Homo sapiens: one gene and its partners. The protein of the gene in region 1 purifies or fractionates together with the protein of each later gene. This does not show direct contact. Each region holds a gene or a part of one and is shown in the gene's direction. Other genes may lie near its edges.

Region 1 (7,022 bases):
CAGGAGCCTGTTGACCAGGGAGGACCTTAGTGTGCCCTCCTGCATTTGCCTGTAACCCAGGAGCTTGGGGAGTGGGCATCATAGCCTAAAGAACCTAGGGTCTGGATCCTGGCCATGTCCTGTCACACGTGGGTTGGGTGACCTTGGGCAAGTCTCCACTGAATTAGGCCTCAGCTTCTTCAAATAGAAATGAGGAGGTCACGCTCACATCGAGCTCCCTGTGAGCATTCCCTACTGCTGTTAGGTTTGGAGACTTTTTGGTCTGTTCTTAAGATCTCATTTCCCCTGGTAAAGAGGCTGAGAACAGTGGGATCGGCTCTGGGCTTAGGTCAGTTTCTTTTTTGGAGGTAGAGTGGGGTGGGGAGGTGTGAGGTGGGATGAAAGTACAGTTACAAGAAGCATAGCCAGCCTTGAAGGGCTTTTGCCTAATTGGATGTCAGAACACCCCTTAGACTTTTTTTTTCTTTTAGAGACAGGGTCTTATTCTGTCACTCAGGCTGGAGAATGCAATGGTGCAATCTCAGCTCACTGCAGCCTCAACCTCCTGGGCTCAAGCATTCCTCCCACCGCAGCCTCTAGAGTAGCTGGGACTACAGGCCAGCTACCCCAGCTAATTTTTTGTATTTTTTTGTAGAGACAGGGTTCCACCATGTTGCCCAGGCTGATCTTGAACTCCTGGGCTCAAGTAATCCTTCTGCCTCAGCCTCCCAAAGTGGTGGGATTACAGGCATGGGCCACCATGTCCGGCCCCCTCAGACTTCTTAAGATCCTCAGGTAACAGTGAGGCCACCCATTCAGCCTCCTCAGCATCTGGCGTTTGGTACCAAATCCAGGCATCCTTGCAGGAAGCTGGAGCTGCTCCAAGTTCAGAGCTAGGAGACCCTTAAAGACAGAGATGCAAGGAACTAATCAATAGTGAACAACAAACCCCACCACACCCGCCAGCCAAGCTGGCAGAGCCTTTCATAGCCATCGAGGTGGGAAGACCAGTGAGGCAGATTCAGAAGGAGGAATGCTTCAACCTAGTACCTCAGCTTCCCACCATCTCATTCAGTCCTCAGGCCTCACAGGGCAAAAGGCCAGAGGCCTTAGAGTTCAGCTTCAGATGGTGTACCTGTCTGCCCCAGAAGCAGAGAAGTGATCCAGGGTTCACAGAGTTATAGCAAGGAAGATGATTTCTGCTGGTAGCAGCTTTAAGACAAACCTACCATCAGAGAGCAGTTATTAAAAATCTGTCTGCATTTGGGACCTTCTCAGGCTGTTTCTAAAGCAAGTCATGCCTGAGAGGGGCCCTGCCCTTTAAAAACTCCCAGCCTTTAAAAAGGTTTCCAAATGGTAACAGTCTCAAATCAGTGCTCTTCTCTTTTTTGCCAATTCCAGTCTGCAGGCTGTTTGCACAGATTGTTGGCAACTCTGGGTTGCTCTTCTTTGCAGCTTCCTAGGGCTGGGCAAGACAGAACCCAGAGAGACGTGAATTCTTATGCTTTATTCTTTATTTCTAGAGGTATAGGTTCGTGTTAGGGCCTTGAATATAAATTCTACTCCTGATGTTGCCTGAATGAAAAATGATACCTAGAAGTTTTCAGCCAATGAGTTTGGACATTAGAGGAGGAAGCATGTTAGTTCCTTCTGGAGAGCCACAAACAGACGCATTGGGCAAGGAACCACGTGCTGAGCACCATTTGCATGCTGAGTTTTAGACTTTGTAGGACACACACACACACACACACACACAGATATCTACCTCCTACTAGGGAACAGAATAGAACCTTGCTTCTCTCCACTTGGAGAAAAGTCGCTGTGGATGGTGTGTGCCAACAGGTCCTCTCCAAAGGCTTATGTGGGGTCAGTGAGGCCATGGTTTTGGAGTCTGGGATTCACCACCCTGTCCTGGGGAAACAAAGTTTGCCATAAAACAACAGAAAAAGATCGAGCCATCATAAAGGCAAGAAAGAGCCAACCCAGACATTTGTGCCACAGCTCTCCTAGAGGGAGTGGGCTGGCATCCTTGCTGGACACAGTGAAGGAGGCTGTTTATGTTGTGGTACTGGGAGGACCGGGGGACTGTGCCGTGTGGAACGTGTAGCTGTTGAGAGGTGGACTCTGTTACCATTGAGGATGTTTGGAGGATGAGTATGTGTGGCAGAGGCACACATAAACAGGCAGAGACCCTTTGCCCCTGCCTTTCTCCCCCAACCCAAGGCTGACCTGTGTTCTCCCAGGTCTGGGATTCTAAGTGACCTGCTCTGTGTTTGGTCTCTCTCAGGATGAGCACAAGCCTGGGAGATGGCAGTGATGGAAATGGCCTGCCCAGGTGCCCCTGGCTCAGCAGTGGGGCAGCAGAAGGAACTCCCCAAAGCCAAGGAGAAGACGCCGCCACTGGGGAAGAAACAGAGCTCCGTCTACAAGCTTGAGGCCGTGGAGAAGAGCCCTGTGTTCTGCGGAAAGTGGGAGATCCTGAATGACGTGATTACCAAGGGCACAGCCAAGGAAGGCTCCGAGGCAGGGCCAGCTGCCATCTCTATCATCGCCCAGGCTGAGTGTAGGGGCCTAGGGTTGTTGTGGGCACGGGGCAGGTGGGTGGGCCTGCAGGTGGGTAGCTGGGCCCAGGGGTTCCCTATGGAGGAGAGAGGTCTGTGTCACTGCTAGATAAGATTCTCATGAGACACAACCAGAGGTCTGTGCCGAGAATCATGGAAAGTGGGGTTGTAAAAGTGCACAGATGGTGGATGTGGCAAGGGGAGACTGTGCCCATCGTGACTGGAGCAGGGGAAGAGAGGTAACAGACGAGCACTCGGGACTCTGCAGAATCATCAAGCAGGCCATCAACCTTCTGCTGTGACCTTGAGCAGCCCCAGTGTCTGGAGAGGCTCCAGACAGGAAAGGCCAGGTCTCCTGGAAAGCCCCACTGGGGCCTGTAGGGCCTTCACCATCTTCCACCTAGAGGTGGCCCCACCCCCAGGAATGAGCACCGTGCTCTTGAGCCTGCTGGGCCAGTCCTGGGGCGGCAGGCTGCTGCAGGGTGAGACCTAGTCTGGTCCTTTCTTCTTCTACTCATGATACCTTATGATGACTAGTAATGGTGGCTTCCCTTGGAGACAGAAACTCCCACGAGGCCTGGGTAGGGCCGGGAGTCCTCTCTCTCCAACGCCTTCCCTCAACCCGGGAGGCTTCTTGGGGTGGAACCTGGAGAGCTGGACAGCCATGCTGTCATTTCTCCACACGCATACATCCTGCCCTCGTCTCCCACTTCCTCCTGGTTGGTTTTTGAGGAGAGATGAGAGAATAAAAACTAAAATACAGAGAGTGACATAATAATTGTTTTAAAAAAATACACATATATCCACACTTATATGTACACACATATATAAATACCTAATAGCTGTTTTTCCTATGAGCCAGGCACTGTGTTGAGCATTTTCTGTAGATCATCTCACTTCAGCTTCATAGGAAGTGAGGCGGGCGCCCTGTGATCCCCATAATATAGGCTTGGCTATTTCAGAGCAGGTGGCTGAGGCCGTGGTCTGCTCTTGACCAGTAAGCTGAGAAGCTGGGGAGAGACAGTGCGGGAAGGAGGCATTGGTGGGGAGGTGACTGCCAGACAGGGGTTGTCTGGAAAGGAGGGGAAGGAGAGGCGCCAGAGGGGATCTCTGTAAAATGTCTCTCCCCTAAGTGCTAAATTCCTATTTTTTCTCCTCTCTGCTAATCCAACTCCTTTTGCTTTAGGTGAGAATAGCCAAGAGTTCAGCCCCACCTTTTCAGAACGCATTTTCATCGCTGGGTCCAAACAGTACAGGTAAGCAGGGGAGACAAGCCTGAGTGGGAAGGTGGGGACTGGACCCAGCGCCCTCGTCCCCAGCACTTGCCTGGGCCGCTCCTGCTGACCCCGGGCTCCCTCCCTCAGCACCTGTGGTTCAGCTCCTGGAACTCACCCAGGCTTTCCTGGCTGAGCCGCTCTCTCAGCCAAATAAGCTTTTCAAAGGCTTTTCACAGCTTGTGGCTGACTGCCTCTGGGCCACATCAACTTGACATTTTATTTTTATTCTCCTCAGAGTCCTTAATGCACCCCCTCGTTTCCCATCAACAGGGAGGGTGCTGGGAACAGAAGCTGCTTCCCACTCTTGCGTGACCGTGAGCGCAGGCCGGGTTGGTGGGGGGGGCCTTCCACTGTCCTCTATGGGAGAAACCTGCTGGTGCCTTTTCTCCTGGGAGATGCACCGAGTAGGGATGCGGGCGGTAGAAAAGGAGGGGACAGATAGACTTGGTGGCCCGGTAGAAAGGAAGCCAGGGTGGGGCTGAGTCTGTTCCCAGGCTCTGCATTCCCCCACAGATGATTTTTTGAAACAAGAGTTCAAGTGCTGGGCACAATGGCTCTCACCTATAATCCCAGCACTTTCTGAGGCCGAGGCAGGTGGATCACGAGGTCAGGAGATCGAGACCATCCTGGCCAACATGGTGAAACCCCGTCTCTGCTAAAAATACAAAAATTCCCTGGGCATGGTAGCGCATGCCTGTAACCTCAGCTACTCAGGAGGCTGAGGCAGGAGAATCGCTTGAATCCAGGAGTCGAAGGTTGCAGTGAGCCGAGATTGTGCCACTGCACTCCAGCCTGGTGACAGAGTAAGATTCTGTCTCAAAAAAAAAAAAAAAAACAAGAGTTCAAGCTAGAAACAGCTCCTTCCCCTATCACCAGGCAGGTTTTGTATCATTGGAGTTTGGAACCTGCTAGTGATAAGATTGTGGGGAGGGCAGCTGGCTGCCTTGGAACCAAGAAATGCTCAGTTTGGTGGGATTCCTTCTGCTGTCCTGGGTGCCTTTTGGCCCAGGGTAGGAGCCTCTGATAGACACACTTCTTTCAGCTGTCCAAGAGAAGCCTGTAGGCCTCCAGTGGTCCCCAGGACTGCCATGAGTCTGCCTTCTCCATGGGGGCAGAAGATGAGGCCAAGGGAGGGTGGCTGAGGCCATGATCTGCTCCACAGCTGTTCTGCAGCAACCCATCTGTTGCCGGGTCCTTTAATACTTGGCAGGGATCCCAGTCCAGTTAGAGCCATGGCAGTGATGAGCCCCGAGGCCAGCAGAGAAGGGCAGGCTCCCCAGTACCAGGCAGCAGCCCAGGCTGTTCACCTTCAACAGCAGCCAGGGACCCCCAGGAACTGTGAGAATGGAGGTGACCAGCCTTACCTGTTCCTCCATCCGGAGGCAACAGAAACAAGCTCTGCTCAGTCAGAGCTGAGAGGCCTGCCATGAGCGTGGCCCCCTCCTAGGAACTCTCCAGGGGCAGCTCACCTTGGAGAGCAGTGAGCGAACCGTGTCTGCTCCCCTGACTCTCCCCAAGAAGTGCTGAGTCTGTACCCCATCACCATAGTAACAAGCACAGCTTCTCGGCAGCTTGCCTTGGGGCCAGACACTGAGCTGGGCTTTTTAAATGAACTAAATTATTGAAACTTCATTTCCACCCTGTATGGCAGAAAATACCAAACCCATTTTATAAGTGAGATAAGTGAGAAAACAGGTTCCTTGGGATTTAGAAACCTTGCCGCATTCACACAAGGAATGGCAACCTGGGATTTGACCTTGGATCTGCAGGAGTCCAGATACAAGTGTCTGGACCAGTCCATCTTCCTGCTTCCTCGTGCTCAATATGCAAATCTGTCCCTTTTGTGACAGCCAGTCCGAGAGTCTTGATCAGATCCCCAACAATGTGGCCCATGCTACAGAGGGCAAAATGGCCCGTGTGTGTTGGAAGGGAAAGCGTCGCAGCAAAGCCCGGAAGAAACGGAAGAAGAAGAGCTCAAAGTCCCTGGCTCATGCAGGAGTGGCCTTGGCCAAACCCCTCCCCAGGACCCCTGAGCAGGAGAGCTGCACCATCCCAGTGCAGGTGAGACCCTCCACCCACTGCCCAGACCCCAGGTTCATGGGGCCTTGAAATTGGAGCCTGTCCCTGGGCCCTGGCCCTCTGTGCTGATAGCTGTGTTTCCCCCCGCAGGAGGATGAGTCTCCACTCGGCGCCCCATATGTTAGAAACACCCCGCAGTTCACCAAGCCTCTGAAGGAACCAGGCCTTGGGCAACTCTGTTTTAAGCAGCTTGGCGAGGGCCTACGGCCGGCTCTGCCTCGATCAGAACTCCACAAACTGATCAGCCCCTTGCAATGTCTGAACCACGTGTGGAAACTGCACCACCCCCAGGACGGAGGCCCCCTGCCCCTGCCCACGCACCCCTTCCCCTATAGCAGACTGCCTCATCCCTTCCCATTCCACCCTCTCCAGCCCTGGAAACCTCACCCTCTGGAGTCCTTCCTGGGCAAACTGGCCTGTGTAGACAGCCAGAAACCCTTGCCTGACCCACACCTGAGCAAACTGGCCTGTGTAGACAGTCCAAAGCCCCTGCCTGGCCCACACCTGGAGCCCAGCTGCCTGTCTCGTGGTGCCCATGAGAAGTTTTCTGTGGAGGAATACCTAGTGCATGCTCTGCAAGGCAGCGTGAGCTCAGGCCAGGCCCACAGCCTGACCAGCCTGGCCAAGACCTGGGCAGCAAGGGGCTCCAGATCCCGGGAGCCCAGCCCCAAAACTGAGGACAACGAGGGTGTCCTGCTCACTGAGGTAACTAATCCCCCGGCACCTGTATATGTCCCTCTACCAGCAACCTGGGGGATGCTTTTCTCTCTTTATCAGAGTCACTCTTGCCTGTGGTGACAAATCAAACAGTAGGACAGTGCTCATTGTGGATGAAAAGTATCATCTCTTATTCCGCCAATCTCACTTCTCACAGCCTTTTTAGCGTCTTCTGTTCTGAGTTCTTCTGGTTGGTCACCTCCTGCTTGCTGAATGTGGGCACTGCATTAATAGTACACATGCTGAGGACAAGGGGAATCAGCCAGGAGCCACTGGAGATGTTATCATGGCCCCCAGAGACGGAAGATGAGGATGGGACCTGTTTTCACCACCCACCTCCTTCCCTTTTTCCTCTTGTTAACTTCCCAAATAATTTTATAACTTTAAATGATTTTATCAAACTTTGATT
Region 2 (7,355 bases), on another chromosome or scaffold:
CCTAGCCTGTTACAAGGGTGGGACACGAGCCGTTTATCCATTTATCGGCCCCGTGTTAGAGGAATTCTGGAAACGTGTACTGGCAGTTAATTCTTGATCGCCGTTTGTTCTTTTCTTGGCTTTTCTTTCTGGAGTTCTAATGTTTCTTTCTCTTCTGCAGATATGCACCCAATGTCCAGGGAGCGTGCAAAATTTGTCAAAAGTGGCCTTTTATTGTAAAACGACACGAGAGCTAATGCTGCATGCCCGTTGCTGCCTGAATCAGAAGGGCACCATCTTGGGGTGAGGGGAAGACATCCCTAGATGCTGGATACAGGCCATTCCTTAGCCTGGCTGCTTTTATACCCTTATATTATTTAAAGAATCCACCTATTATGGTTTCAGCTGTAATCATCACGCAGATGTCTACCAAAACTAGATCTCTTTAGTGTCTTTTTTAACCTTTCCACACTCCAGGTACATACGGGTACCTCTAGCTTCCTATTAAGCATTTCCTACTGAGTGCACCCTAACTTCAAACTCAAAATGTTATGTTTTGCTTCCATTCTCTTCTTTCCTTCATCTACCTAAATACTTCTCTGTATTAAGCTTTTAGAAAACCAACATTTTCCATTATCACTCTCTTGCTTTAATACTATATTTAGTATTAAATTTTGTCTCAGGACAAAATTCAAACCATTAAGTACCATACTAGTCCCAACCCACTTTTCCAACATTATTTCCAATTACTTGTCCGCTCAAACCTCCATAATGGTCTGCACCAGCCAGATTTGCCTGCCCTCAAAGGCATTCCACCTTTGTTCAGGCCTCTCTCCATACCTGAAATTGCCTTCCTCTACCAAATTAGGAAATATCCATCCTTCAATTCCAACATCTTTTGTGAATATTTACTACTACTAAGTTCCAGAGTAATACCTTTTTTAAATTATTATTTATTTATTTTTTTGAGACGGAGTTTCACTCTTGTTGCCCAGGCTGGAATGCAATGGCATGATCTCGGCTCACCGCGCCCTCCACCTCCTGGGTTCAAGCGATTCAGTAATACCTTTTTTAAAAACTTCCTGTAATCTTTAGTGTCCACTCAAATATATTTATACACTGTCCTGTGGTTTCTTTTATATTGTAATTTAATGTTTACAGTGCTTTTATTTTTGGGCAGTGCTCTTGTTCCTCTAACTACATTGTAAGCCACTCAAAGGCCAAAATACTGTGTTACATATTTTTAACATTCTCCCAGTGTTTGCAGTTTGTAGGGACTCAGTAAATATTTGTAGAATAAAGGAATGGATAGCAGTAGATATTGAAGAAAAAAATAACGTGGCATGATCCTTAATGTCCAGCAGTTTACAACCAATCTGTGGTAGAAAATACATGTGGAAAAAAACTTTGATTTATGTGACTTTTTTTTTTTAATTTAAAGGCCCTCTGTGGATCTGAAAATCATAATATGAGATTCACTAATGTAGACAAGAAACACAGATTTCTCCCAATAGATGCATAACCGATTAGAACAGTGCTGGCGGATAGAACTTTCTGTGATTATGAAAATGTTCCGAGCCAGGCGCGGTGGCTCATGCCTGTAATCCCAGCACTTTGGGAGGCCCAGATGGGCGGATCACGAGGTCAGGAGTTCAAGACCAGCCTGACCAACATGGTGAAACCCCGTCTCTACTAAAAATACAAAAATTAGCCAGGCGTGGTGGCATGTGCCTATAATCTCAGCTACTCAGGAGGCTGAGGCAGGAGAATTGCTTGAACCCGGGAGATGGAGGTTGCAGTGAGCCGAGATCGTGCCACTGCACTCCAGCTTGGGCAACAGAGTAAGACTGTCTCAAAAAAGGAAAATGTTCCGTATCTGTACTAACCAGTACAGTAGCTACTAACGTGGTTATTCCATTTGCACTTGAAATACGGCTAGTGCAAATGAGACACTGAATTTTTAGGTTAAATTAATTTTCTTCTATAGAGTCAGGGTCTCATTCATATTGCCCAGGCTGGTCTTGAATTCCTAGGTTCAAGTGATCCTCCCCCGCTTGGCCTCCTAAAGTGCTGGGATTACAGGAGTGAGTCACTACACCCAGCCTAAGGTACATTAATTTAAATTTAAGTAGTTACATGTGGCAAGTGGCGATTCTATTGGATAATGCAGAATTAAAATGTCTACCACAGCTCCTAGTGTGTGACTCTGAACACAGCTGTGTTCAATTATTAGCTGAAAAGGGGGTTGTGTAGTCAAATACAAACTGTGCCGTGGCTGAAGAAAAAGAGGAACACACAGTTATATTGATTACTTTATTTCCTCAGGCTGGATCTCCAGAACTGTTCTCTGGAGGACCCTGGTCCAAACTTTCATCAGGCACATACCACTGTCATCATGTAAGTAGTTAGGTACCTCCCACCCAAAAGGCTAATATAATGTAGGTTGATGCGAAAGTGCTAACATTGTGTACTTTGCAGAGACCTGCAAGCAAACCCCCTCAAAGGTGACTTGGCCAACACCTTCCGTGGCTTTACTCAGCTCCAGACTCTGTGAGTAAGGGTATGGGAAGAGAATCAAAGAGGGATGATGCTGTGAGTTTAGCAACTTTGCATGTTATGACCACATTTCTCTATAGGATACTGCCACAACATGTCAACTGTCCTGGAGGAATTAATGCCTGGAATACTATCACCTCTTATATAGACAACCAAATCTGTCAAGGGCAAAAGAACCTTTGCAATAACACTGGGGACCCAGGTATGCTGTCTTACCTCCAAACTTCTGGGAATTGTCTTTTCTCCCTTGTATTTTCCACTTTAGATCAGAAAGACAAAGTTGCTTAAGCGCCTTTCATTCAGAGTTCTGGGGCTATAACCCCTTTGAAAGAAAAGATCTTAAGATATACTCTATTATTTGTCTCACGTGTGTCCGTGTAAAGAGACCACCAAACAGGCTTTGTGTGAGCAACAAGGCTGTTTATTTCACCTGGGTGCAGGTGGGCTGAGTCCAAAAAGAGAGTCAGCAAAGGGTGGTGGGATTATCATTAGTTCTTACAGGTTTTGGGGTAGGCAGTGGAGTTAGGAGTGCTGTTTTGCGGGCAGGGGATGGATCTTACAAAGTACATTCTCAAGGGTGGGGAGAATTACAAAGAACCTTCTTAAGCGTGGGAGAGATTACAAGGAAACTTCTTAAGGGTAAGGGAGATTACAAAGTATATTGATCAGTTAGGGTGGGGCAGAAACAAATCACAATGGTGGAATGTCATCAGTTAAGGCTATTTTCATTTCTTTTGTGGATCTTCAGTTGCTTCAGACCATCTGGATGTATACGTGCAGGTCACAGGGGATATGATAGCTTAGCTTGGGCTCAGAGGCCTGACATTATTGTTACTGTTTTTATCTGTAATTTTCTTTCTTCTTCCTTTATCCTAGCAATGATTGAGAGAATCTAAGTTGAAACAGATAATTGAGAAATATGCCTAATGAAATGGATAAAGTGATGTTCTCTATTTCTCTCTGGCCTCCAGAAATGTGTCCTGAGAATGGATCTTGTGTACCTGATGGTCCAGGTCTTTTGCAGTGTGTTTGTGCTGATGGTTTCCATGGATACAAGTGTATGCGCCAGGTGAGGAATTAGGCCGTCTAACTAGGGATACAAGGAATGCATAGAGCAAGTCTTCTCAGAAAGGAGAGCCACAAGACCAGGAGCTGATACAAATTTCCTATAGGTGGAAAACTATAGAATTGCCCTAGACAAAGTGATAGGTATATTAGGAAAGAACTAGGTGTTAGGATGTGGCCCTCCGTGTAACGTTGTATGGGGGTGTTTTTTGGTCTGTTGTTCACAGGGCTCGTTCTCACTGCTTATGTTCTTCGGGATTCTGGGAGCCACCACTCTATCCGTCTCCATTCTGCTTTGGGCGACCCAGCGCCGAAAAGCCAAGACTTCATGAACTACATAGGTCTTACCATTGACCTAAGATCAATCTGAACTATCTTAGCCCAGTCAGGGAGCTCTGCTTCCTAGAAAGGCATCTTTCGCCAGTGGATTCGCCTCAAGGTTGAGGCCGCCATTGGAAGATGAAAAATTGCACTCCCTTGGTGTAGACAAATACCAGTTCCCATTGGTGTTGTTGCCTATAATAAACACTTTTTTCTTTTTTTTTCCTCTCTTTCTTTTTAAGGAAAGGCGCCCTGCCTTTACGTGTTTCTTGCTTGGGGTGGGAGGGACTGCTTTAGGGCAGCCGGTTTTTTCAGGTTTCCCCCGGTTTTGCAGTGCGGAGACCACGGGGGCCCACTCCCCGTGGCTCCGCGGACCCCGCCCCTTACGTGCCCGGCCCCGCCCCTCACGCCGCCTGTGTCCGCGCCGCCGCAGTCTCTGCTGCTGCCGCCAAGCGCGCCCGAGGCTCCTACGCTGCCGCGCCCGGCTTCTCTCCAGCGCCCCGCGCCGTTAGCCACGTGGACCGACTCCGGCGCGCCGTCCTCACGTGGTTCCAGTGGAGTTTGCAGTCCTTCCCGCTTCTCCGTACTCGCCCCCGCCTCTGAGCTCCCTTCCCATGGCGGCCCTAGTGTTGGAGGACGGGTCGGTCCTGCGGGGCCAGCCCTTTGGGGCCGCCGTGTCGACTGCCGGGGAAGTGGGTAAGCAAGCCCGGTTAGGCTGCAGACCTTATCCCACTCTGTGATGCGCCTCTCCTCCCAACCTTCCCCGTCCAGACCCCGCCATTTTCCCGCCAGCGTACCCCCTTCCCCCATTCGGTGCCCATGGGCCCCAGCGCCATAAACCCCTCGCGACCAAGGCAGCCTCCACTGGGGCGTGCTCATCGCGCGGGGAGTGTTCCGAAGGGTGCCCTACCGGAGCCCAGCCCTGCTTCTTTCTTGCAGTGTTTCAAACCGGCATGGTCGGCTACCCCGAGGCCCTCACTGATCCCTCCTACAAGGCACAGATCTTAGTGCTCACCTATCCTCTGATCGGCAACTATGGCATCCCCCCAGATGAAATGGATGAGTTCGGTCTCTGCAAGGTAGCCACACCCAGTGCTTTCTCTACATTCCTTTTCAAGTCAGTAATTGTTAACTATTAGTGAAGTAGGAGACGTTGACACCCTGCTGGGCATCCTGCAGAAAACATACCCACTGAAGTAGTAAAGTCAAGGACTAAGATCACTAGTAACTGTAGTTAGGGGTTGTTAAGTGCCTTGGGAGGCACAGAGTGTTGGAGGCCTCAGGAAAAAGCTACCGCCTTTGTTAAGGGCATCAAGGCTCCAGGTATAGCTGAAAGCATTCTGTATGTAGTGAAGGCATGGATCAAGGAAAAGTAAAAGAGGTGTAAGGGAACAGCCTTGTCCAACTTGTTAGGCATGCAGAAGTCAGGAGAAAAAAGCCTGCAGATAAGTTAAATCCGGTGGGCATGGAGGGACCTGAAGCCAAAGCAGAGTCAGCTTAGTTTGGTAAAGGATCCATTGAAGGTTTTTTTTTAGCAGCAGAGTCAGATGGGAGCAGTGCTTTTTAGGACTACATAAATTAGTGGAAAGAGACTGGAAACTAGGGTCACATACTTCTCTGTGACAGTGAGTGCCAGTTTACCTACAAAACCAGTGACATTATCTTCTAGACCTACTGACATGGCCTCGTCTGATTCTCTGCTTTTCAGTTGTGTTCTTACCTCTAGGTGAGAAAACTGAGTTTCTTCCTACAGTGAGGTTTCCCCTATTCCTTCACCTCTGAAATTTGGAAACTAAGTTGCCCTCTGACAGTTCAAGCATTAAAAAAAACCCAACATATAGTAATTAAGGTAATAGAGGAAGTCAATCTGGCCTAGAGTAGTATCTCTCAAAATTTGTTTGGCCTCACTGCAGGTGTAAGCCTTTAATTCTTAATTTGCCTTCCCAGCCACCCTGACGCTGGGGAGAGTGAGCTCCGGATAAAGGACGTACATGTTGTTCTTCCTGGAAAAGAATTTCTAGGTTCATCACAAACCTACAAATACACTGCATTCTAGTTGATAGTGAATTCTTGTGAATTTGGTTAACCTTTGTCAGTCATCACCTTTGTCAACTCTAGACACACTGACTAAATTGAGTTTATAAAACTACAAAATTGAGGCCTGATTAGGATCAGGGTGGGAAAGGCCTCTTGGAGCCACTCGCACATATAAATGGATTACTCCACCTGGCCAGGGAGGGTTCTGCCAAACTATCCTTCAGATCCCTGGACAGTCTCAGAATGCAGGTTCCTTAAACTGTTCATCACCCAGCTGAATGCAGTTTAAATATGCTGATCCCTCCCACATAAACTTTCTGTTTCTATGTAGCTATTAAACGCTTATCTATTGAGTAACAAGTTTATGGTTTTTGTTTTTTTTTTGGGGACAAGGTCTCACTTTGTCACCCAGGCTGGAGTGCAGTGGCATAATCATGGCTCACTTGCAGCCTCTGCCACCTGAGCTCAAGTAGTCCTCCCACCTCAACCCCCCAAGTAGCTGGGACTACAGGCACCTGCCGCCATGCCTGGCTACTTTTTTTGTATTTTTTGTAGAGACCGGGTATTGTCACATTGCCCAGGCTTGTATGTTATCTTTTTTTATTTAATTTTTTTTTATTTTTATTTTGCTTTGAGGTAGAGTTTCTTTCTTGTTGCTCAGGTTGGAGTGCAATGGGCAACCTTGGCTCACTGCAACCTCCGCCTCCCGGGTTCAAGCTATTCTCCCACCTCAGCCTCCCGAGTAGCTGGGATTACAGGCATGGGCTACCATTCCCAGCTAATTTTGTATTTTTAGTAGAGACAGGGTTTCTCCATGTTGGTCAGGCTGGTTTTGAACTCCCGATCACAGGTGATCTGCCCACCTCGGCCTCCCAAAGCGCTGGGATTACAGGCGTGAGCCACCGCGCCTGGCCTTTTCTTTTTTAAATAATCCCAAATGAAGTTTGGGAGGCATGCTTAGTATTGTGCCCTGAACCTTTGTTTTTTATTTGGTAATGGGGTATTTTGTACCTCCCTATCTTACTCAGTTTTTAATCACACTCTATAATTAATATTTATATGGGTGTTACCTTGTTTTCTAGCTCCCTAAGTCAGAAATAAACATCATGAAGACAGGAACCTCATCTTTTTTTGCTCATTGCTCTTTTCTCAGCATCTTTTGCAATGCCTGCACCTCAATAAATGTCTGACTGACACCATGTGCCTTGCTCTTGAGTTCTCTGTTTCGTGACAAAGACACAAATACATATTCATCATATGACGTAAATAGCAAGAGAGGAAATAAAGTATTAAAACAGCTCTAAGATGGAGGCACAAGCTGTATTGGGTGAGTGGGAGGGGCTTCACAGAGAAAGGATTTGTGATTTCAGTTTTAGATAAAGGAAGAAAGAGGCGGG
Region 3 (7,224 bases), on another chromosome or scaffold:
AAGTAGACATAGGAGACTCCATTTTGTTCTGTACTAAGAAAAATTCTTCTGCCTTGAGATTCTGTTAATCTATGACCTTACCCCCAACCCCGTGCTCTCTGAAACATGTGCTGTGTCAAACTCAGGGTTAAATGGATTAAGGGTTGTGCAAGGTGTGCTTTGTTAAACAGATGCTTGAAGGCAGCATGCTCGTTAAGAGTCATCACCACTCCCTAATCTCAAGTACCCAGGGACACAAACACTGCGGAAGGCCGCAGGGACCTCTGTCTAGGAAAGCCAGGTATTGTCCAAGGTTTCTCCCCATGTGATAGTCTGAAATATGGCCTCGTGGGAAGGGAAAGACCTGACCGTCCCCCAGCCCGACACCCGTAAAGGGTCTGTGCTGAGGAGGATTAGTATAAGAGGAAGGAATGCCTCTTGCAGTTGAGACAAGAGGAAGGCATCTGTCTCCTGCCCGTCCCTGGGCAATGGAATGTCTCGGTATAAAACCCGATTGTACGTTCCATCTACTGAGATAGGGAAAAACCGCCTTAGGGCTGGAGGTGGGACATGCAGGCAGCAATACTGCTTTGTAAAGCATTGAGATGTTTATGTGTATACATATCTAAAAGCACAGCACTTAATCCTTTACCTTGTCTATGATGCAAAGACCTTTGTTTGTCTGCTGACCCTCTCCCCACTATTGTCTTGTGACCATGACACATCCCCCTCTCAGAGAAACACCCATGAATGATCAATAAATACTAAGGGAACTCAGAGGCTGGCGGGATCCTCCATATGCTGAATGCTGGTTCCTCGAGTCCTTTCTCTATACTTTGTCTCTGTGTCTTTTTCTTTTCCAAGTCTCTCATTCCACCTCACGAGAAACACCCACAGGTGTGGAGGGGCAACCCACCCCTTCAATTTTTTGAGACGGGGTTTCACCATGTTGCCAAGGCTGGTCTCGAACTCCTGGGCTCAAGTGATCCACCAGCCTTGGCTTCCTGAAGTGCTGAAATTACAGGTGTGAGTCACCATGCCCGGCCTTAGTCCATTTTAATTTAAGGTTAGGAATCTGACTTACCAGAGAAACGTAGTAGACAACATATCTGGATTTCAGCAAATTGTTTGGCAGAATCTTATGATATTTGTTTGAGAGGCCCACAGTAAGGTGGAAAGGGCTGCTTTGTTTTATATAAACTTAGGGGAGAAAGCTTCATCCTGGAGTCAACAGATTGGGTTTGAATCCTGGCTCTGTCCCTTTCTAGCTGTGTGTTTGGTTGTTACTCCACCTCTCTGAGCCTTAATTTCTTCATCAGTAAAAGTAATATTCACCTCCTAGGGTTGTTGGGAGGGAGAATAAGAACTTCTAAAGTACCCGAACCTAGCAACTAGGACACTATATTTGCAGGCAAGATGAAGAGGGGTGGGGAAGTAATAGGAAACAGCCCAAATCGAGAGCCATAATAGTCTCTCTTTACTTAGTGCCAGTGCAGGCCTGTGATTCTGTTCTTAAAAACGTCTGGGGCAAGCTGCAGGAAAGACCCGAGATAGTTTATGTTCTACCATAAGCCTAAGGGAGGAGGACTCCAGGCAGGGAGATTACTCATGGCACCTGCTAAGGAGAAACGCTACTGACCAGAGAGAGGTCCAGTCATGTACTCCGTGCTTGGTGAATTTCTGTCCTGACCTCGCTGCCTCTAGAAGTGTTCAGGTGGAAATTGGAAGGTCTATAAGAGGCAATTCGGCAGCATACAGTGGCTCACGTCTGTAATCCAAAATCCAAGCATTTTGGAAGGCCAAAGTAGGAGGATCACTTAAGCCCAGGAGTTTAAGACCAGCCTAGGCAACGCAGTGAGATCCATCTCCACTAAAAATTTTAAAATTTGCCAGGTATGGTGGTGTGCACCTGTAGCCCCAGCTACTCAGGAGAGTCAGAGAATCGGCGCACCCCGGAGTTCGAGGTTGCAGTGAGCCATGATCACGCCACTGTACTCCAGCCTGGGTGACAGAGCAAGACACTGTCTCAAAAACATAAATAAATAAATAAATAAATAAATAGGCCGTGCGCAGTGGCTCACGACTGTAATTCCAACATTTTAGAAGGCGGAGGCCAGCGGATCACCTGAGGTCAGGAGTTCGGGACCAGCCTGACCAACGTGGTGAAACCCCCAACTCTACTAAAAATACATAAATTAGGCGGGCGTGGTGGTGGCCGCCTGTAATCCCAGCTACTCGGTAGGCTGCAGCAGGAGAATGGTTTGAACCCGGGAGGCAGAGGTTGCAGTGAGCCAAAATCCCCTCACTGCATTCCAGCCTGAGACTAAAAAAAAGAGGCGATTTCCCACATCGGTGGAAATTTGAGCTGTTTAAACTCTGGATGCCTTTTTCAGTTCTAATATTCCAGATCTCCTTGGTGGATAAACACTTCATTTCCCTTCTCCTGAGCAGAGCTCCTGAGCCCTGGCCCGCTGGGAACCTGTCACTTCTAAAAAAGTTCGAGGTCCGGACTGTCTCTCCCGGAGCCTTGAGGCTGATGAGACGGAGCGAGAGAGGGGCCGGGGCCGAATGGAGTCTACTCGCGGGCCCAGGGAGGCCGCCAGAGGGCGCCCGGGACCGACCGCAAGAATAACTTCCTTCCTCTTCCGCTAACTTCCCGGCAGCGCGCCGCTCAGGGTGGGGGCCCCGAGGGCTGGGGCCGTCGGCTTCCCCCTGGGGATCCCCCGCTTCAGAGAAAGCCAAGCGTTAGGCGCAGCCAAAGCCGAGAGGCAGCGGAAGCTCCCGGCCCGGGGTGGCGCTGGGTCAGCGGGTACCTTCTCGGCGGTCCCCTGGCCGGCCGAACTCGCGCCTGGTGTCCTGTCACCCCGCTCCCCGCCCTGAGTGAGCCTGTCCCCTCTCAGGGGCGCGCCCGAGTCGCTCCGGGTTGGCTGCGCCAGTCCAGAGTTAAACTTTCAGCCAATGAAAAAGGGCGCGAGGCGTGACGCACGGAAACGTCATGGGAATTCCCCCCTCCGGGGGGCCGAGAAGGGGCTTTCCCGGCCCTGAGCCCTGCTGGCAGGCGAGGTGTCGCGACCGGTCCCAGGTGGGTCGGGCGCGGAGAGAAGCCGCAACCAGAGCCGCCGCCACGGTGAGTGGCTGGATTCAGACCCCTGGGTGGCCGGGACAAGAGAAAAGAGGGAGGAGGGCCTTTAGCGGACAGCGCCTGGGGCTGGAGAGCAGCAGCTGCACACAGCCGGAAAGGGCGCGCAGGCGACGACACTCGGATCCACGTCGACACCGTTGTACAAAGATACGCGGACCCGTACGTACACCTGTACCTGTGCTGGCGCACACACGGCAGCGTCCGTGCAGTCGCACTCGCACACACATGCACACGGAGACGTGCCCACCGGTGCACTGGTGCCTGCACCCACACCCTTCACGCACAAACTCAAGATACGCTCACCCGTGTCCGTACATCAAGACAGGCGCTGACACACACCCACACTGAGAAGCTCGGGATTCACCTATCTACACACATGCTCGCTTGCACACTCATGTTGACGCCATGGACACACAACATGCAACCAAGCACTACAGCCGAAACACACTTGTGGAGCTGTGATGGAGACACACTCTTGTATTAGGTGGGGGGGGGGGGGGGGGAGCGTGCAGAGATCTCCCTGTCGCCTGCGCGCCCAGAACCGGTGCGGTGTGGGACCAGCTGCTGTTGTGAGGTTTGGGAGAGAGAGAAAAGAGCCCACTCCGAGGAGGAGACACTTTTCCCGCAGCCCCAGAATCGCGTTCTCGGGGCAGAACCCCGGGGCCTCCCACAGGAAAGAGCCCCCGCCTACAGGCTGTTCGAAGGGGAGGCCGTCCGACAGCAGGAATGTCCCCCCAAAAGCCCCCGGGGTTTATCAGCCGTGGCCTCCCTCCTGGCAGAAAATCCCAAGGTTGCTCCAGACCGGGGGAGGGGAGCGGGAGGCGGACTTGGCCCCAGACTGCCAGCCTCCTCCCGGCCGTGAAAGACCCTCCTGTTCCCTGCCCTGGAGGGAGGAGGGGGCTTAACCCCCACCGGGGCTTCCCGGATTCTCCTAGACCTCTGCCCGCTGAAAAGCAGCGGGAGCCCGTAGACTGTCGAGGGCCTCCCGCCCCTCCCGTCGCGAGGGCGGGGCCAGTGGCGTCATTTCCAGGCCCGCCCCCTCCGGCCCCGCCTCCCCTTGGTATTTTCGGGACTTTCCTAAGCTGCTCTAACTTTCCTGCCCCTTCCCCGGCCAAGCCCAACTCCGGATCTCGCTCTCCACCGGATCTCACCCGCCACACCCGGACAGGCGGCTGGAGGAGGTCGGACCCTCCCCCAAATCTGGGCCCCCATCTCCCGCCCACCCCCATTTAGATCTGACCCCCTCCCCCACGCCACTCCTCCCAACTTTAGGCGGGCGTCTAAAATTCTGGGAAGCAGAACCTGGCCGGAGCCACTAGACAGAGCCGGGCCTAGCCCAGAGACATGGAGAGTTGCTACAACCCAGTGAGTCATGCCGCCTGCCCCTGACCCGGCCGGCTGCCCCTCGTGTCTGTCCACCTGTCTGCCCGAGCCCCCTCTGCTGCCTTACACCTGTATGCTCGCAGATGCTCTCAGCCTGCCAGTCTGTCCATCTGTCTGCAACTCTGCCTCCAAAAGGAGCTTTCTCTTGGGTCTGAGGAGGAGGGGGGAGTGACCACTGAAGACTTGGAGATGGGAGGTGGGGCTGTGGGGGGTGCTGAGAGTCGGATGCCACCCCCAGTCTGTCTCCAAACCAGGGTCTGGATGGTATTATTGAATATGATGATTTCAAATTGAACTCCTCCATTGTGGAACCCAAGGAGCCAGCCCCAGAAACAGGTCAGCAAGTTCACTAACCTCCCCTAGTCCTAAAGCGGGGGAGGGAGAGCATGTGCCCTCTCTCTGGGGGAGGGGCTGGGAGATCGTGGCTCAGCAAGGTCTCTCTGTCCCCAGCTGATGGCCCCTACCTGGTGATCGTGGAACAGCCTAAGCAGGTGAGTGAGCAAAAGGGAGGGTGTGGAATGGCTTCAGCTTTGGGGACAAATGGGGTAGTGGTAGCTGGCTGGCCATGGAGGAGCCATTGCCGAAGGAGGCCACAGGGGATTGGATGGTCACTGCTGCTGATCAGAGTGCTGTAGTTTGGTTCAGGGCTACTACCAGGCACTGCGGTCACTGCTGGCCTGGGTGGTCTTCCCTGATCACAATGCTACTATGCCCTTGGACCTTCAGAGAGGCTTCCGATTTCGATATGGCTGTGAAGGCCCCTCCCATGGAGGACTGCCCGGTGCCTCCAGTGAGAAGGGCCGAAAGACCTATCCCACTGTCAAGGTGAGCCAGGATGGTGCTGGAGGGTGGGCTAAGTGGACAGCATGCCCAAGGCCCTGACTGACAGTCCCTGCCTCTCCTAGATCTGTAACTACGAGGGACCAGCCAAGATCGAGGTGGACCTGGTAACACACAGTGACCCACCTCGTGCTCATGCCCACAGTCTGGTGGGCAAGCAATGCTCGGAGCTGGGGATCTGCGCCGTTTCTGTGGGGCCCAAGGACATGACTGCCCAGTAGGTGCCCTCTACGCCTGGCCCCCACTGGTATGCCCGTCTGCCAGTCCCAGGCCCCAGCCCACCTCCATGAGCTTAGCATCTGACCAAGGGGAAAGATGTAGGTTGGCCCCAAACCCAAGGGCCTAAGTAGAAACTCCAATGGCTTCCTTGAGGAAGTAAGGCTGAGCTGAGCCCTGGCAATGGGAAAGGTGCCTCAGGAAGAAAGAACTGCATGGCCAAAGGCCTCCGATTCTCTCTTCTCAGATTTAACAACCTGGGTGTCCTGCATGTGACTAAGAAGAACATGATGGGGACTATGATACAAAAACTTCAGAGGCAGCGGCTCCGCTCTAGGCCCCAGGGCCTTACGGGTATGGGTGCAGGGGGTGGGTCGGGTATGGGTGCAGGGGGTGGGTGGGTCATGGGAGGTGCTCATGGAAGGAGCAGGGAGGGAGAAGCCCAGGGGTCACACATGTACCTACTGCCCAGAGGCCGAGCAGCGGGAGCTGGAGCAAGAGGCCAAAGAACTGAAGAAGGTGATGGATCTGAGTATAGTGCGGCTGCGCTTCTCTGCCTTCCTTAGAGCCAGTGATGGCTCCTTCTCCCTGCCCCTGAAGCCAGTCATCTCCCAGCCCATCCATGACAGCAGTGAGTATCCTGATTGCCTGGGGTGCCAGGCCTGGTGGCAGAGGTGGCATGAGGGGTGACCTCAAGCTGTGCAGTCAAACAGACCCAGGTTTCAGAACCTGGCCCTGCCACATATGAGCTGAGTGATCCTGAGCAAGTCATTTCCCCCCCGAAGCTTCTGTCTTTAGTAAATGTGTATATTGGGTGTTTCCTGCAGCTCCAGGGGTTGCTGAGATAAGGAATACAAAGCCCCCAGCTTCTTAAATGTGGCCTTGGCTATTGCATCATCTCAACTAATCCATATCCCACTCCATAGAATCTCCGGGGGCATCAAACCTGAAGATTTCTCGAATGGACAAGACAGCAGGCTCTGTGCGGGGTGGAGATGAAGTTTATCTGCTTTGTGACAAGGTGCAGAAAGGTGAGACTGGAGCCCACTTTGGGCACCAAGGACATCGAGTATAAGACTGGGGCCAGGGAAGCTCTAGGGTAAATGGCCCCAGAGATTCCACCGGGAGCTGTGGCCAAGCTTCCGTTTTCCTTGTAGATGACATTGAGGTTCGGTTCTATGAGGATGATGAGAATGGATGGCAGGCCTTTGGGGACTTCTCTCCCACAGATGTGCATAAACAGGTACCCAGGGCTAGGGCCCGGGCCCGGGCTGGGGGCTAAATTAGGCTAAGGACTCACTGACACCCTGTGTCTCCCTGCACCCCCCAGTATGCCATTGTGTTCCGGACACCCCCCTATCACAAGATGAAGATTGAGCGGCCTGTAACAGTGTTTCTGCAACTGAAACGCAAGCGAGGAGGGGACGTGTCTGATTCCAAACAGTTCACCTATTACCCTCTGGTGGAAGGTGGAGCTGGGCTGAGGACCTCAGGGTGCTGGCGGGGGGCCAGGCTGGGCTAGAAGAAGGTCCCAAGAGCTAGATGTGGGGATGCATGAGCCAAGTCAGAAGTGCGAGGGTCCCAGGAGGTGCTTCCTAGGAGCCGGCCCTGAGGGCTCTTCTGGGAAGGGCCCCTGAGGCATGACACAATAACTGGGCTCAATC
Region 4 (7,022 bases), on another chromosome or scaffold:
TTTGAGACCAGCCTAGCCAACCCCGTCTCCACTAAAAGTCCAAAAATTAGCCCAGTGTGGTAGTGTACTCCTGTAGCCCCAGCTATTTGGGTGGATGGAACAGAAGAATTGCTAGAACCTAGGAAGCAGAGGTCACAGTGAGCCAACGTTGCGCCAGTGCATTCTCCATCCTGGGTTACAGAGCAAGACCCTGTCTCAAAAAAAGAAAAAAAAAAAGAATGGTTTTCAACACGTCCACTGCCCGAGTGGAATTATATATAGTCAGAGGTGGGTTTTTTGTGTTTTTTTTGAGGGTTTTTTTTTTCTTTTGACACGGAGTCTCACTTTGTCACCCAGGCTAGAGTGCAGTGACGCAATCTTGACTCACTGCAACCTCAGGCTCCCAAGTAGCTGGGATTATAGGCACCTGCAACCACGCCCAGCTAATTTTTGTGTTTTTAGTAGAGATGGGGTTTCACTATGTTGGCCAACCTGGTCTTGAACTCCTGACCTCAGGTGATCCACCCATCTTGACCTCCCAAAGTGCTGGGATTACAGGTGTGAGCCACTGCGCCTGGTCAAGAGGTAGTTTTTAAATTCATAAAATGGGCTGGGCTGGGTGCAGTGGCTCATACCTGTAATCCCAGCACTTCAGGAGGCCAAGGTGGAGGGTTGCTTGAGCCCAGGAGTTGGAGACCAGCCTGGGCAACGTAGCAAGACCCTGTCTCTACAAAAAATATAAAAATTAGCTGGGTGTGCTGGTATGCACCTGTAGTCCCAGCTACTTGGGAGGCTGAGGCAGGAGGATGGCTTGAGCCTAGAAGGTTGAGGCTACAGTGAGCCATGATCATACTATTGCATTCCAGCCTGGGTGGCAAGCAAGATCCTCTCTCAAAAAAAAAAAGGGACTGGATTACAGTTTTGATTAAAATATGCTTGAAGTTAATAACCTATTCTGGCTTACTGAACACAAAAATAAGTAAAATACATAGTGTACCAGGTGTTGTGTAACAGGAAGAGTGCTTTTCAAGGAACAAAGAAAGTGTCTTTGATAATGAGTGACTTCAAAGCTGATTTCTTAATCTGTGGTCTTGGCTCGTTCTAGTGCCCACCAGAAGTATGTCCGACAAGCCTGGCAGAAGGCAGACATCAATACAAAATGGGCAGCCACACGATGGGCCAAGAAGATTGAAGCCAGAGAAAGGGTAATAACTTAGGGTCATTTGAATTCTGGTCCTTTCTTTTTTTGGAGGGTTCAAGATAGTGTGAGAGGGATAATTTTTATTTGTTGTTTTTTTTTTAACAGAAAGCCAAGATGACAGATTTTGATCGTTTTAAAGTTATGAAGGCAAAGAAAATGGTAAGATTTAAGATCTGTATTTTTGTGTAACTTAGCTTTAAATAATAAGGGAGCAGTAGCCAAATCCCATTTCAGGCTGCCAGCTTCTTGGAAGCTTTCTGTAAAAAAGGAGAATTTATCTTCATTTGTATTTCATGATGTCCCTATGGAATTGTTACCTTTCTTCAGATGTAGTTGTAGGGAAACAGACTACTTAATGCCCTTTCTAAAACCAGCATAAATTGGATTTTATTGTATGTATACACAATAAGTGCTTTCTTACATTGATAATTTTCAGAGGAACAGAATAATCAAGAATGAAGTTAAGAAGCTTCAAAAGGCAGCTCTCCTGAAAGCTTCTCCCAAAAAAGCACCTGGTACTAAGGGTACTGCTGCTGCTGCTGCTGCTGCTGCTGCTGCTAAAGTTCCAGCAAAAAAGATCACCGCCGCGAGTAAAAAGGCTCCAGCCCAGAAGGTTCCTGCCCAGAAAGCCACAGGCCAGAAAGCAGCGCCTGCTCCAAAAGCTCAGAAGGGTCAAAAAGCTCCAGCCCAGAAAGCACCTGCTCCAAAGGCATCTGGCAAGAAAGCATAAGTGGCAATCATAAAAAGTAATAAAGGTTCTTTTTGACCTGTTGACAAATGTATTTAAGCCTTTGGATTTAAAGCCTGTTGAGGCTGGAGTTAGGAGGCAGATTGATAGTAGGATTATAATAAACATTAAATAATCAGTTCCTTTTTTTTTTTTTTTTTTTTTGAGATGGAGTCTCGTTCTGTTGCTCAGGCCGGACTGCAGTGGCGCTATCTCGGCTCACTGTAAGTTCCACCTCCCGGGTTCATGCCATTCTCCTGCCTCAGCCTCCTGAGCAGCTGGGACTACAGGTGCCCGCCACCGCGCCTGGCTAATTTTTTGTATTTTTAGTAGAGACGGGGTTTCACCGTGTTAGCCAGGATGGTCTCGCTCTCCTGACCTCGTGATCCGCCCGCCTCGGCCTCCCAAAGTGCTAGGATTGCAGGCATGAGCCGCCGCGCCTGGCCTAAATAATCAGTTCTTTAATCTCACTCTCTGCCCATACTTGGATAGGTAGTGCAAAATCATTGCAGTCATAATTGATCATGTCATGAGAAATCATGATAACTTAGAACACCAAGTGACACAAGTGACATTTTTTTCTTATGGTCACCTTGGCTTCAGAACATCTTTTTTCCTTGTACAAATATGTTTGCCATAAATAGGTAAAGTGACAGCCTCTTGATGCTCAAGAGTCTAGCAGATTTATTTTATTTATTTATTTTTTTTTTTTGGAGACAGAGTCTTGCTGTGTTGCCCAGGCTGGAGTGCAGTGGTGCGATCTCAGCTCCCTCCACCTTCCGGGTTCAAGTGATTCTCCTGCCTTGGCTTCCCAGGTAGCTGGGACTACAGGCGCCCACCACCATGCCCAGCTAATTTTTTTTGTAGAGACTGGGTTTCACTATGTTGGCCAGGCTGGTTTTGAACTCCTGACCTCGTGATCCGCCTGTCTCGGCCTCCCAGAGCGGGGGATTATAGGCATGGGCCACTGCACTTGGCCTTTTTTTGTTTTTTTGAGACAGAGTCTTGATCTTATCACCCAGGCTGGAGTGCAGTGGCACGATCTTGGCTCAGCGCAACCTCTGCCTCCTGGGCTCAAGCGGTTCTCCTGCTCAGCCTTCTGAGTAGTTGGGACTATAGGTGTGTGCCACCACGTCTGGCTAGTTTTTGTATTTTTAGTGGAGATGGGGTTTCACCATGTTGGCCATGCTGGTCTCGAGCTCCTGACCTCAGGTGATACACCCGCCTTGGCCTCCCAAAGTGCTGGAATTACAGGTGTGAGCCACTGTGCCCGGCCTGCAAATTTTCTTATAAAAAGTAAACTAGGAAAATAGGGCAAGTATAAAAATTGCAGGTTGAGCATATTTCTAATCCAAAAAGCTCTAACCTCTGAAACTGAGCTATGACACTACAATTTAAAAATCCCTAGCCTACCCGCATGGTGGGTTATGGTCAAAATACAGGTACACAGCACTATTCAGTGTCCCTGAGGAAGAAATAGTTAACCTTCAGGGTACATGTATATGAAGCATAAATGAATTTCCTGTATAGACCTAGGTCCCATCCCCAAAGTGTCATGTATATGCACTTAACTCCAACATCAGAACACATCTCGTCCTAAGTGTTTCAGATAAGAGATACTTATCCTGTGTATAGTAGGTTGGACTTCTGTTTCTCTCTACCACAAGATACAGGTAATTTGGGGCAGTAAAAGATCCTGGATAGATTTAAAAATACTACAAAGCTGTACATGAAACAGGATTACTTTTTTTTTTTTTTTTGAGACAGAGCCTTACTCTTGCCCAGGCTGGAATGTAGTGGCACGATCTCAGCTCACTGCGACCTCCACCTCCCAGGTTCAAGTTGTTCTGCCTCAGCCTCCCAAGTAGCAGGGGTTAAATGCGTGTACCACCATGCCCCTCTAATATTGTATTAGAGATGGGGTTTTGCCATGTCAGCCAGACTGGTCTTGAACTCCTGACCTCAGGTGATCTGTCCGCCTTGGCCTCCCAAAGTGCTGGGATTACAGGCGTGAGCCACCGCTTCTGGCCAGGAATACATTTTAAATAAATTTGTTTCCTAACCAAAAGCTAGCTTCAGGCGTCACTGGGGTAAAGGAAAAAGCACATTGATTTGCTTGATAATAGGCAAGTGGTATGGTGTAATAAGGAAAATATGGATGATTTCGGATTACCTGTTCTACTCTGGGAGGTAGAGAATTGTCTAGAGAAAGTGGCATCTATACCTAAAATAAGAAGAAGGTGGTGTAAGGGGAAGAATGACACGAGATAGGAAATAAACGAACTGATAGTGTAGAGGACTGGCTCGGGACCACATCAAGGAAGTAGGTTAGTGGTTAGATCGTGTAGGGGAACACGGGAAGCTACTGAGGGTTTTTTAAAATGGCGTGATATCTCAGATTTAGATCATTGAACTGTTAAGACTGAATCTTATGGGATCAAGACTGGGAATGCTCGGGTTGGCAGTATGAAGTTTGGCAGTAATCCAAGGAAGTGACAGTGGTAATGCCATTTAGGTGGTCTTGATCATGCATTGGACTGCAGAAATAAGGGAGAAAACAATGTGTCAGGGTTTCTGGTTTGTACCTCTGGTTCATTGGTTGTGAGGGAACATGAGGCAGGGTAAAGTTTATCTAGGTAAAATGAGTTAGTTTTCATGTAGACTATCTGGGTGTATATGCAAAGACTGCAGACAATCTATACTAAAATCCTGGCTCTGCCTCTTGAAAGCTATGTAGTTTAGGCACATAGTCAAAATCCAGTTTCCTCATCTATGTGGTACGCTTCAGAGTAGTTAATCATGATATGTAGTCCAGTGACTGGTTCCCTTGGTAAGAGCTGTGATAATGACACAAGGAGGAGAGGTTTCAGGACAGACTTGGGATTCATGAATATGTAAGTGGTCACTGATTCCCCAGGGGTAGGATGACAACAATCAAGAGACGAATAGAGGTTGGAAAGGAGTCATGAGGGGTGGGAAACTAGCAGGGGCACATGGAAGCTAGGGAAAGAATTTTGCTTGAGATCGTCAAAGTGAGGGGAAGAGGGTAGTAAGCAAAGGAGAAATGTTATATGGGGTTCGGAGGTTTTGTGTTTGTAAATCTGGAGTGATGGGCATGTTCAAATGCTTCTGGGAAAGGAGCTAATAGGAGAGAAACTTAGCCCTTCGAAAAACAGGAAGGGATGGATCCTAGGGGAGAGGAGGAAGGATTGGCTTTAGAGGAAAGATGTCCTTTACGTGAGGAAAAGGAAGAAAAGGTGGGTTTAGATACTAAATCTGTAGGTTTGCTGTTAGGAAATTAAGGACTTTTCACCTTTATCTCTGAAATTTCTCTGGAGTTAGCAAGGCAAGGTCATACACTGAGAAGGAGGGATGAGGCAGTGTAGATTTGCAGACATACAGGTTGTAATTCCTTATGGAGGAAAGGGGAGAGCACTTTTGTCAGACTGCCTGTGGCTTTGAGAGCCCTTTGGCTACAGTCCATGAGGTGCTCAGAGGATGAGAAAGCTTCAGGGTAGAAGCAGTATTCAAGCTGCACCTAGAAAACAGTGCAATACAGAACAGTGGAAATTGGAAATTCCAATCTTGGAATCTCTAGGAAAGTAACTGAGGCATACGATGCCTGAAAAGGAGTAGAAAATAAAATTAATAAGGTGGGACCATATGATAAGAGATTTGAGGCCGGGCACTGTGGCTCACACCTGTAATCCCAGCACTATGGGAGGCTGAGGCAGGCGGATCACCTGAGGTCAGGGGTCCGAGACCAGCTTGGCCAACATGGTGAAACCCCGTCTTTACTAAAAATACAAAAATTAGACAGGCATGGTGGAGCATGCCTGTAATCCCAGCTACTTGGGAGGCTGAGGCGGGAGAATCGCTTGAACCCAGGAGGTGGAGGTTGCAGTGAGCTGACATTACGCCATAGCACTCCAGCTTGGGCGACAGAGGGAGACTCTGTCTCAAAAAAAAGACTTGAGCAAGGGCGTAATCTTCAGGAAGGTCAGTCTGGTAGCATAGTGTGGATTGGGTTGGGGGATGGGGAAGGAGAGCAGAAAATTATTGAAATATCCAGGTGCATAAAAGTCTACTTTGATTATGGAGAACTACACACTTGTTCAGTCACCCTCATTGGAGACGGGGGATGGCATACGAAAAGAATGCTGATTTCAGGCTGGGCACGGTGGCTCATGCCTTTAATCCCAGCACTTTGGGAGGCTGAGGCAGGTGAATCAGGGGTTCAAGACCAGCCTGGCCAATGTGGTGAAACCCTGTCTCTACTAAAAATCAAAAAAAAAAAAAAAAAAATGGCTGATTTCAGAGTCATATTCAGGTTTAAATTCTGTCATTCAGCCCAAACTCATTACTTTATGTTACTTATGGGAACCTCATCTAAAAAGCAAGGATCCTGATACCTGCCTCATATTGTGGCAAGGATCAAATGAGTCAAATAAGATGCTTGTGAAAGTGAGGACAGGATCTATCCTCAACACCTAGTGCAATTCTTTTTACACATTAGGTACTTAGTAATTTGGGTTGAATTGTGTTGAACTAACCTGGCGGTATAGGCAAAATTTGGAAGTTTGGTTTTCAGAAAGTCTTGACTTCCTCTTATCTCTAAGTAATTGGCATGTCCTCTAATTCATATTTTCCCCCCTCATCTGTTGGGTGAAATACTGTTTATCCTTTAGTACTAAAATTAAAAGTTACCTCATTCTTCTAGCTAGCTGATTTTTTTTTTTAATCTAGGCTAAATCATGAATACATTTACATTTAAATAAAATATTACAGTTGAAAGTAAAGGGTCCTTTCATTATCTCCACTTCCAATTCCAGTACCCTGTGTAAAGGAAAACATATACATCTTGCAGACATTTTTTAATGTGTTTGTAATATAGGTACATAAAAATATATGTGCTTGTTTTAAGCAAATTTCATACTCTGCAACTTGCCTTTTTTCTTAATACGTTCTGGAGATCTTATCTAGTCAGCCTCTAAATTAGAGTTCTTCAGAAAACCAATGGGATGGATGAATGGACTCAAGAGATTGTGGAAACCAAGAAGTCCCACAAAATACCATCTGCAAGCTGGAGAACCAGGAAAGCTGATTGGGATAATT

Evidence for each region.
Region 2: the proteins of MAP3K14 (region 1) and CAD purify together in Homo sapiens (affinity purification with mass spectrometry; 3 studies listed by BioGRID and IntAct, with this or other methods). This does not show direct contact.
Region 3: the proteins of MAP3K14 (region 1) and NFKB2 purify together in Homo sapiens (affinity purification with mass spectrometry; 6 studies listed by BioGRID and IntAct, with this or other methods). This does not show direct contact.
Region 4: the proteins of MAP3K14 (region 1) and RPL14 purify together in Homo sapiens (affinity purification with mass spectrometry; 2 studies listed by BioGRID and IntAct, with this or other methods). This does not show direct contact.

The regions. Positions count from the first base shown.
Region 1 is NC_000017.11:45,286,010-45,293,031, reverse strand, and holds part of MAP3K14 (mitogen-activated protein kinase kinase kinase 14), read left to right. Parts: intron 1-2,266; 5' UTR 2,267-2,286; coding exon 2,287-2,542; intron 2,543-3,726; coding exon 3,727-3,796; intron 3,797-5,667; coding exon 5,668-5,878; intron 5,879-5,986; coding exon 5,987-6,601; intron 6,602-7,022.
Region 2 is NC_000002.12:27,213,017-27,220,371, forward strand, and holds the start of CAD (multifunctional protein CAD), read left to right. Parts: upstream 1-4,352; 5' UTR 4,353-4,535; coding exon 4,536-4,617; intron 4,618-4,860; coding exon 4,861-5,000; intron 5,001-7,355. Other genes in the region: ATRAID (all-trans retinoic acid-induced differentiation factor isoform c precursor), read left to right, coding at 161-282, 2,305-2,376, 2,458-2,529, 2,616-2,737, 3,507-3,604, 3,828-3,932. UniProt on the Homo sapiens protein: Multifunctional protein that encodes the first 3 enzymatic activities of the de novo pyrimidine pathway: carbamoylphosphate synthetase (CPSase; EC 6.3.5.5), aspartate transcarbamylase (ATCase; EC 2.1.3.2) and dihydroorotase (DHOase; EC 3.5.2.3).
Region 3 is NC_000010.11:102,391,495-102,398,718, forward strand, and holds the start of NFKB2 (nuclear factor NF-kappa-B p100 subunit), read left to right. Parts: upstream 1-4,210; 5' UTR 4,211-4,302; exon of another isoform or gene 4,303-4,393; 5' UTR 4,394-4,465; coding exon 4,466-4,486; intron 4,487-4,758; coding exon 4,759-4,840; intron 4,841-4,954; coding exon 4,955-4,995; intron 4,996-5,230; coding exon 5,231-5,329; intron 5,330-5,409; coding exon 5,410-5,561; intron 5,562-5,807; coding exon 5,808-5,914; intron 5,915-6,032; coding exon 6,033-6,191; intron 6,192-6,486; coding exon 6,487-6,591; intron 6,592-6,717; coding exon 6,718-6,803; intron 6,804-6,890; coding exon 6,891-7,029; intron 7,030-7,224. UniProt on the Homo sapiens protein: NF-kappa-B is a pleiotropic transcription factor present in almost all cell types and is the endpoint of a series of signal transduction events that are initiated by a vast array of stimuli related to many biological processes such as inflammation, immunity, differentiation, cell growth, tumorigenesis and apoptosis.
Region 4 is NC_000003.12:40,460,323-40,467,344, forward strand, and holds part of RPL14 (large ribosomal subunit protein eL14), read left to right. Parts: intron 1-1,084; coding exon 1,085-1,184; intron 1,185-1,285; coding exon 1,286-1,339; intron 1,340-1,616; coding exon 1,617-1,910; 3' UTR 1,911-7,022. UniProt on the Homo sapiens protein: Component of the large ribosomal subunit. The ribosome is a large ribonucleoprotein complex responsible for the synthesis of proteins in the cell.